Regions from separate parts of the Homo sapiens genome. Here region 1 is reported to be linked to region 2. The links are microRNA targets in miRTarBase. Many come from high-throughput screens and were not tested one by one. Region 2 holds a microRNA gene; the other region holds the end of a gene's coding sequence.
What was found. Region 2 holds the annotated microRNA hsa-miR-4295 (CAGUGCAAUGUUUUCCUU, at 1,134-1,151, opposite strand). A microRNA usually pairs through its seed, bases 2 to 8, with sites in the 3' UTR of a target mRNA and lowers its output. Matches are read on the target gene's strand: a 7mer-m8 pairs with bases 2 to 8, a 7mer-A1 pairs with bases 2 to 7 and ends in A, and an 8mer does both.

Region 1 (4,399 bases), not on the chromosome of region 2:
CTATACTTTAATTCATCTGTTGATTACTTACAATACCTAATACAATATAAATGCGATGTGAAGTTGCTATACTGTATTGTGTAGGGGATAATAACAAGAAAAAAAGTCTGTATATGGTCAGTAGTGTATTTTCGACCTATGGTTGGTTGAATCCTAGAACCCGCTGATGGAGAGGGAGGGCTGCCTGAACATCATGGTGTCTCCTGTTTTCATATTCGGTAGCTCTAGCTTGGGGCAGTCCCATCCTCTTCGAATGTATCTGGAAATGCATGGGAGCATCTTTTGTAGTCAGTGGAGGGGGTGAATTGCACTGCTGACATTTAGGGCTCAGAGGTCTGGGATACTAACACCTGCTGCAATGCTTATGTTGCCAGTTCCACAGGATGAAAGATCATCTAACCAAAAATGCAAATAGCTATCTTGTTGACAATAGGCTCCTCATCCGTTCAGGATGTGCGAGAGTTACTTTAACATGGGCATGAGCTCAGAGATGGAAGTGACTTGTCAAAAGTGCAGTATACAAGCTGGGCACGGTGGCCCGTGCCTGTATCTCAGTTACTCAGGAGGCTGAAGCAGGATGATCATTTGAACCTAGGAGTTCATCTCATCTTTTTTTGAGATGGAGTTTCACTCTTGTCACCCAGGCTGGAGTGCAACGGCACGATCCCGGCTAAGTGCAACCTCCCCCTCCCGGGTTCAAGCGATTCTCCTGTCTCAGCCTCCCGAGTAGCTAGGATTACAGGTGCCTGCCACTACGCCCAACTAATTTCTGGTATATTTAGTAGAGATGGGGTTTCACCATGTTGGCCAGGCTGGTCTCAAACTCCTGACCAAAGTGTTGGGATTACAGGCGTGAGCCACTGCGCCCGGCTGAGATCCCATCTCTTAAAAAAAAAAAAAAAAAAAAGGGTGGGGGGCATTATACAAAGTGGAGAGTCCTTAAAAAGCTCAGACTTCGTACAGGAAACAGGCCATGCTGGCTGTACCGGTCCTTTTGTCTGGCCAGTGTGGGGAACCTGTGAAACCTTCATAAGGTCATCAATGGTCAGATGACAGTTCAAATTCAAGCTCCATCACTTGCTAGCTGGCTAAACTTGAGCAAGTGTTTTTGGAGCCTGTTTTGTCCATAAAAAGGGAATAATAAACTCAAAAGATTGTGGGGATTAAACAAGGTATCTGAATGTGCCTGGTATACCATCTAGGTAGGGACTAAGTGTTCTGTGAAACGGTGGCTGTTTATCTTGCCATTTTCACAAATGCCACACCTGGCTTTGTGCTTCTTAACCACTTTCTTACAATGATGTTTTAATTCCTGTGAAGAAATAGCCCACAAGGTATTTGTTCTGTCAAAGGCTTGGATGAAATGTTTTCACCCAACTGCTACCTCTTGGACCAACCAAAAAACAAAGAAAAACAAGTCGAAGGGAACTAATAGCAAAATTTAAACCTGAGAAACTAAAAATCTTTGTTAGCACATTATATCCAATTGCATGCTAATTCACCAGTGTTCTTCATTATTTTACACATACTACAAAGAAGAAAAAAAGTTCTTTTCATCATAATCTATGAAATAGAATTCATTAATACCTGAACAATAGTGAAGTGAGCAACAGAGGGTAGTCCTGAGAATTCAGAAGCTGAACAACTACATAGGAAATGCAACTATTTGGTTATAATTGAAATCAGATTAAAAACAGTATGTTTAGGTCAGGCACAGTGACTCATGCCTGTAATCCCAGCATTTTGGGAGGCCAAGGCAGGATTGCATGAGCCCAGAAATTTGAGACCGGCCTGGGCAACAAAGTGAAATCGTGTCTCTACCAAAAAATCAAAAAAATTAGCTAGGCATGGTGGCATCCTCCTGTGATCCCAGTTACACAGGATGAGGGGATGAGGCAGGAGAATCATTTGAGCACAGGAAGTCAAGGCTGTGGTGAGCTGTGTTCGCACTACTGCACTCCAATCTCGGCGACAAAGCGAGACCCTGTCTCAAAATGAAACAAAACAAACCAGTTGTTTGGCTATATATCACACATTCAGGGTCCACAGAATAGAGCTGACCAAAGCCATTGTCAACCTCTCTGCAACAGCAAATTAAGTTTTTTTGAGATGGAGTCTTGCTCTGTTGCCCAGGCTGTAGTACAACGGTGTGATCTTGGCTCACTGCAACCTCCGCCTCCCAGGTTCAAGCGATTACATACGTGAGCCACCGTGCCCGGCCAAGAAGCCTTTCTTTAATAACTCTCCTCTGTAGACAACCTTTTCTTCTTCCAAATTCCTATATATTTTTTTGAATTTACTGTGTAATTTGAGAGTTCAGAGGCTGTATAGTTGAGGTGAAAAGAGGTGCATGACAGACAAGTTAAGAATTGTAATTGAGTCCAGGCCTGGCTTACTGGCAGTCTGGCCCAAAATGCAAACAGCCTTCTATTTTAAAAAAAATTGTTAACAAGGTGCTAAGGAGACATAAATCAGAGTAATCCATATTTGAGATCATCCATTATATCCCAAACCAAAAAAAAGAGACCTCTATGGACCAATGGCTAGGATTCAGAAAATGCTTAACTATAGAAAATAATTCTTTATAGGGTAGTTTTGTAACAGGATTTTACCGTAGCAAATGTGGAATAAAGAAAAGGTTTAGGTTTAGGAACACCCATTAGGGTTTTTTCGTTACTTCAACATAAAGTACCCTTTAATACACGAAGTACATCCTTTAAACAGCCAAGAGAAAGGAGGTTGTACAATAGAGACGTCATGTTTGCTTTCTAAACATTTGTTTGACTCCTGACACAATGGTTTTGCTTTGGGGTAACATGAAGGTTGCCAAACTTCAAAGTAAAAAAAAAGATATTTTCTGACAAAGCAAATGTTCAGTTCAGAGTTGCCTGATGCTGTCAGCATTCCAAGCAAACTCAATAGGAAGAGGTGAAGTCTTCTTCACTGTATAACCATCGGCGTGGCTGCGGTCTACTGCTTCACATCCCATTCTCCAGGGAAAGGAAAAGTGCTCGCTATGATGCATTGTTTAACCAATGAGTGGTGAGATGTGCCTCTTTACCTGAGGGCTTCCAGACTATAGTTCAGCCACCTTGCTCTCTGGGTCATATGTAGTCCTGAAGCATGTACCATGTTATGGAAAGCCAAGTTTCAAGAATTAAAAATGCAGAGTCAGTCACAATCCTGGGTGCTGTGAGGAAGGCTATAAGGCATTCGAACAAATTTTTTTTTTTTTTGAGACAGGGTCTTGCTCTGTCACACAGGCTAGAGTGCAATGGCGCAATCTCGGCTCACTGCAACCTCTGCCTCCCAGGCTTAAGCAATCCCTCCCACCTCAGCCTCCCAAGTAGCCGGAATCACAGGCAGAAGCCACCGCGACCAGCTAATTTTAGTATTTTTTTGCAGAGACGGCATTTGCCATGTTGCCCAGGCTCGTCTTGAACTCCTGAGCTCAAGCGATCTACCCACCTCGGCCTCCCAAAGTGCTAGGATTACAGGCGTGAGCCACCACGCCCGGCCAAACAAAAGATTAATAAAAACAATGTCTACACAGTTCGTGGCAGGGCGTAAAAAGGTAATAAATTTTCAACCGTGAGAGGGGTTCCCCATCACCTAGGGATTGGGCTGCCTTCCTGGAGTGGGGGCTGACATGGAAATCCAATTCTACTGAGGGTCTATGCATGGTAATTGGCAGAAAACATGATAGAACTAAACACTTCAATTCTTCTCGTTTGAGGAAAACAGCTCCTTAGAGAGAGCTTGAGGTTCAAGTCCTTTTCCCATTGTCATCTATTCAGCCATCCACAGCTTGAAGGTCCTGTCATATGAGCAAGTGGCTATGAGCTGCCCATCGGAAGAAATATCTAGGCCCATCACTTTGCCTTCGTGGCCAGCCAGAGTCTTCAGCGGGGACCAGCCTGGGTGCGTCCAGATCTTGGCTGTGTTATCATAGGCACCAGTAAGCAAGAAGTTCCCATGGATAGCTACAGGAGAAGAGAAGGGGAATTGCTTGAGGAATTCAAGTATTCAAAAGAGAAGACAAAAGCACAAAAGTCTGCAAAAACATACTATTTTTAAAAAAACTTGTTTCTACAGACTTAAGGGAACAAATAACAGTAAGGTCTTTTGGCTCATTCCCTGACCGAGAATCTATTCAGAATAATATTAAGGACTCAGTGCTCAGAGCATCCATGGAGGAAAGAATGAAGCAAAGCACTCATGAAAGTCTGCTTTACTTCCTGCAACGAGAAGCGTGCTTTCCCACAGATCTAAGGGTATGGCAGAGGGAAGGAAATTATAATTTGCTCCTTTACCAGTAGGTCAATTTCTCTCCTGTTTTACTGCTCAGTTAAGCTAAAGCCTGGCCTGCATTCCACGGGAACACAATACTGTTTGTCTG
Region 2 (4,399 bases):
GGTTCTGCTAAAACACTACATCTGCCATGAATTCTGCATCTGCCTTTACCAAAGGGATCTTTCTCCTTAAATTCCTCAGCACGCTGTCTCATCTCCACAAGATTTACATGCCTGCATTATCCTCTTTACCAGAGTAAAAGCTGCTTGAAGGCAGGAAATGTGTTATCTTTTATTCCCCCCAAATAATGAGCACAGTGCCTGGCTCATATTATGAATAAAGGCACCTCCAGCCCCAGCTTTCTGAACTTTGCAGTTACAGGCAACAACAAGGCAGTGAAAACTCCGGCAAATGTCCGTAGGAGACTCCTAGAATTAGCTCCTCTAATGCTCCTCTGTCTGCCTATTTTAACAGTTAAGGAAGACACAGAAAAAATGTTGGCCACTCAGTCCAGGATTCAACCCCAGAGTTTATTTATTATGCATGTTTATGTATTCAGATTGTGAAGGAGGCAATGGGCATGGATTGTAAATTGATGGCAAACTTAATGAAAAGCAGACAAAACAGTGTAAGAAGGCTTAAATGCCTTTTAGAACATGGCAGATATATAAAAAAGTCATAAGAAAGTTTACAATAAAGAAAAGAATGTGGAAGAGTGAGAGTCAAAAAAGATAATTACGTAGAAGATTTTTAAACAGCTTGTCTAATGGAGATGCTGAGTGATTAAGACAAACAGCTTGCCAAACCACCTTGTCACAGGGACATAAATCTGAAAAAGCAGCAGACTCCTCAGAAAGGTCAGACAGATCACATTTAGTTTCAAAAGGAAGAAAACATGAAATTCGTGTGTGTGTGTGTGTGTGTGTGTGTGTGTGTGTATGTGTGTGTGTGTCTGTGTGTGTGTGTATAACCACCGAGAGGCAATGGTATGATATTGATAATCTTTGGAGAAAGAAACCTTCTGTATTGTCAAGTGACTTAAAACTCGAGGCACAATCCAAAACAAGAATTAAATAGCACAGCATAGTGTAGTCAACACCATATGAGAGGGTGCCTTCAGGGCAACACACACTGCTGCCAGAACACCAACCAAAAAATGGACAATCAGGATCTCAAAAGAGATGAGTCACCCAGAGGGTCTCTGTAGGAACAGTCTAGTTTCTTAGCCTTGAACCGAAGTGGTCTTGCCACAGGCAAGGAAAACATTGCACTGTTCCACAAAGTCAATTCTAAATGCATAAGCCATTGAAGCATATTTCTTATGGAATAAAGACTGAGGAGAAATAAAGGTTGAGTAATGAAAGTAAAGATGCAACAAAACTTTTAAAGTGGCCAATCTTGCTCATATAATGCTTGCAACCAAAAGGGAAGAAAGCTCTATTACTCTGGGAAAAAGGTGTTTGGATACACCACTAAAATAGGAAGCCTAAAAGAACCATTGTTTTATAATTCTGAGTTAACTGTGATCCTTTTTCCTTTTTTCCGTTTGTTAACTGATGGTATTTTCTGGAGTGAGTCATGACTTTTTTTTTTTTTTAGTCTAGAGCCAACTTGATAATGCTATTTAAATAAATTAACTAACTAAACTGCAAAGTATAAGCTCTTATGCCCATAAAATAAGAGAAGAACTGGGAAGTTCACCAACAAGGATGAAATAGGAGAGGCATTTAATAAAATTTGGTGACAGAGTCAGGGTAAGGTAACTCTCTCAGTGACACATTTATGTAATGCTAGTCTTCTCTGCATGGGAGACATTACTTTTTGGGGGCAATGCCCTTTTCCTCACCACTGCTTTTCTCCAATCTCTTCTTTGACTTCCTTTTGGGATCCCTGGGTATCCTGCTGTGTTGTTCCAGCCCCGGTGTTTTGCCTGCTATCTCTTTTCAATGTCTGAAGATCAATTATCCCTTCGTGCTAGCATAGGGAGGACAGAAATTCTGGGGACCACAACTTTTCCATTATACTTGAAGGAAAAAAGCAGCTCTCTCCTGTAAGATGGAGAATTCGGAGGTTTCCTCACAGGCTTCTGGTGATGCTTAAAGCAGAGAATCAACCTACAGGGTTTTAGCACAGTGCCTGGCACATGCGGAGTACTCAAAGGATGTGAGCTAATCTTCTTCTTACTATTATTATGTAAGTCCCGTAATTCTCTATGACCCACTATGTGTTCCAGATGATGCCGAAGACCTAGAAAAGTGGCTTTCATCACCATCAGACCTCTCCTCTCCTTCAGACCTCTCCTCTCAGGACTCACCATGTTGGTCAGGCTGCTCTCAAACTCCTGACCTCGTGATCTGCCCGCCTCAGCCTCCCAAAGTGCTGGGATTACTGGCATGAGCCACCACGCCCAGCCCAGACCACCTTTTTGTAACAAATATTTCACACAGGATTTTTAAAAAAGAAATCAATATAATGCCCTAGCTGTAATATAAATACAGGAAAATAACTTACAACAAAATAAGAAGTATTTCTATTTGTAAATACCCAGGCATTACTATACTAATAGATACAACTAAGTAAGTACATGCTTGTGCCTATACAACTGTCACATGCATGTACAATCAACATGCATGTGACACTACATATGCAAACCAATCCACAAGCACTGTAATGACAGCTCAAATACTACAAGTCGCATTACCATGAACACTGTACTCACCCAACTTTCCACCTGTTCCTCTTCCCTAACCCCCTTATGGTTAGGTAGGACTATATGACTATTTCTGGCCGGTACACTATAGTCAGAAGTGATGTACCTCAACTTTGGGTCAAAATATTGATGAGCTGGTATGTGAATCCCGTCTATCCCTGCCCGCAGTGGCTGGCAACGATCCCCATGGTGGAGTCTGGATGCTTGAGTAAGTGGGGCAGAGCCCTCTGTCAATGCTTGATCAACTTTTAGCATAAATAAAAAAGAAACCTTTGTTGTGTTAAACCACCAGAATTTCTAGGTTAATTTGTTACTGTAGCATAATCCTGTCTATCCTTCAATGGTAAAGAACTCTTTTAAAATAAACCCTGATTTTACACAATTATTGTATACTTGGAAAACTCCACATACGTTCAAGCCACACAAAAATACTTTGTGTTCATATGGAAAACTACGTTCAGATAATTATAAATAGGGTGTGCACCTTCACAAATGACCAGCAGGACATTTGAGAGTTTGTGCAGGATCAGGGAGTGTTGTAAAAGACTACGCAATACATTCCAGGATGTTTATTACCCTTGAGTTATCACTGAGATAACCAAAATGCCCCAACAAAGGTTCAAAATGTCCCCTAGGGAAGAATACTACCCCAACTGATGGACACTAACTTGGAGAAAAGATCAACATAACCATGGCTGGCCAAGTTGTATATTTTTACAATTACAATTACAATTATATTGTTATAATTACCATATTGTGGAATTTCATCAATAAGTGATTCATAGATTACAGTGTCTTAGAATCCTGGATTATGTTCTATAAGATGTAAACAAAAATAGGCGAAATAAAAGGGTTCTCTGGTCCCAGATTGAGCAATCCTGGGCTAAAGAGTGCAAATCTTTAGTACATGGAGCATTATGAGTCACGACAAACAAGACACAGTATGCACTGTTCCTCACACTTACTTGAACTGAAGACCTTTTGTTCCAGAGCTTCCTGCGGAACTCACATGCCATAGGCTACACAGCCCTCACCTTTACAGACGAGCAAAATAAGGCTCAGAGGTTTGCGTCAGGCTTTCAGGGAGTTAATAGCAGAGCTAGGCCTAGAACTTAAAATCAATATTCCCAACCATAAAAAGGAATGAAGTACTGACCTAGGCTGCAATGTAAATGGACCTCAAAAACATTATGCTGAGTGAACAAAACCAGACACAAAAGGTCACATGTTGTAGGATTCCATTTGTTTGGAATATCCAGAATAGATGAATCTATAGAGACAGGAAGAAGACTGGTGTTACTAGGGGTTAGGTGGAGCACAAAAGGGGAGCAACTGCCTAACGAGGATGGGGTTTCTTTCTGGGGTGACAAAAATGTTTTAGAACTAGATAGAGGTGGTGGTAGTACAACACTGTAAGAGTACTAAATGTCACTGATGTGTACATTTTAAAATGGTTAATTTTCTATTACGTGAATTGTACCTCATTAAAATAAATAAATAAGGTTTAAAAATTAATATTCTTTACTCTATACTACGCTCTTATCAGCTTGAGCTCCCCAGTGTAGTTGAGAGTAGCATAGCAGTGTCATGTTTTCATACTGCTTTTTTTTTTTGAGACAGAGTTTCGCTCTTGTTGCCCAGGCTGGAGTGCAATGGCGCGATCTCGGCTCACTGCAACCTCCACCTCCCGGCTCCCGGGTTCAAGCGATTCTCCTGTCTCAGCCTCCCAGGTAGCTGGGATTACAGGTGCATGCCACCATGCCTGGCTAATTTTTGTATTTTTAGTAGAGACGGGGTTTCATCATATTGGT

Region 1: the mRNA of PRPF4 is a reported target of hsa-miR-4295. Seed matches in the 3' UTR shown: 7mer-m8 at 3,269-3,275.

What each region holds. Positions count from the first base shown.
Region 1 is chr9:113,291,051-113,295,449 of GRCh38, reverse strand. PRPF4 (pre-mRNA splicing tri-snRNP complex factor PRPF4) reads right to left here. Exons shown (of 14, transcript NM_001244926.2): 14 at 2,545-3,983. The coding sequence ends at 3,790. Among named protein-coding and RNA genes, the nearest start is that of RNF183, 10 kb to the left of the region's middle.
Region 2 is chr10:112,630,932-112,635,330 of GRCh38, reverse strand. It overlaps MIR4295 (microRNA 4295), which reads right to left and starts at 1,161; the gene lies at 1,077-1,161. All of the region lies in intron 5 of VTI1A (vesicle transport through interaction with t-SNAREs 1A), which reads right to left. LOC124902503 (a long non-coding RNA gene) reads right to left here. Exons shown (of 2, transcript XR_007062292.1): 2 at 1-3,858.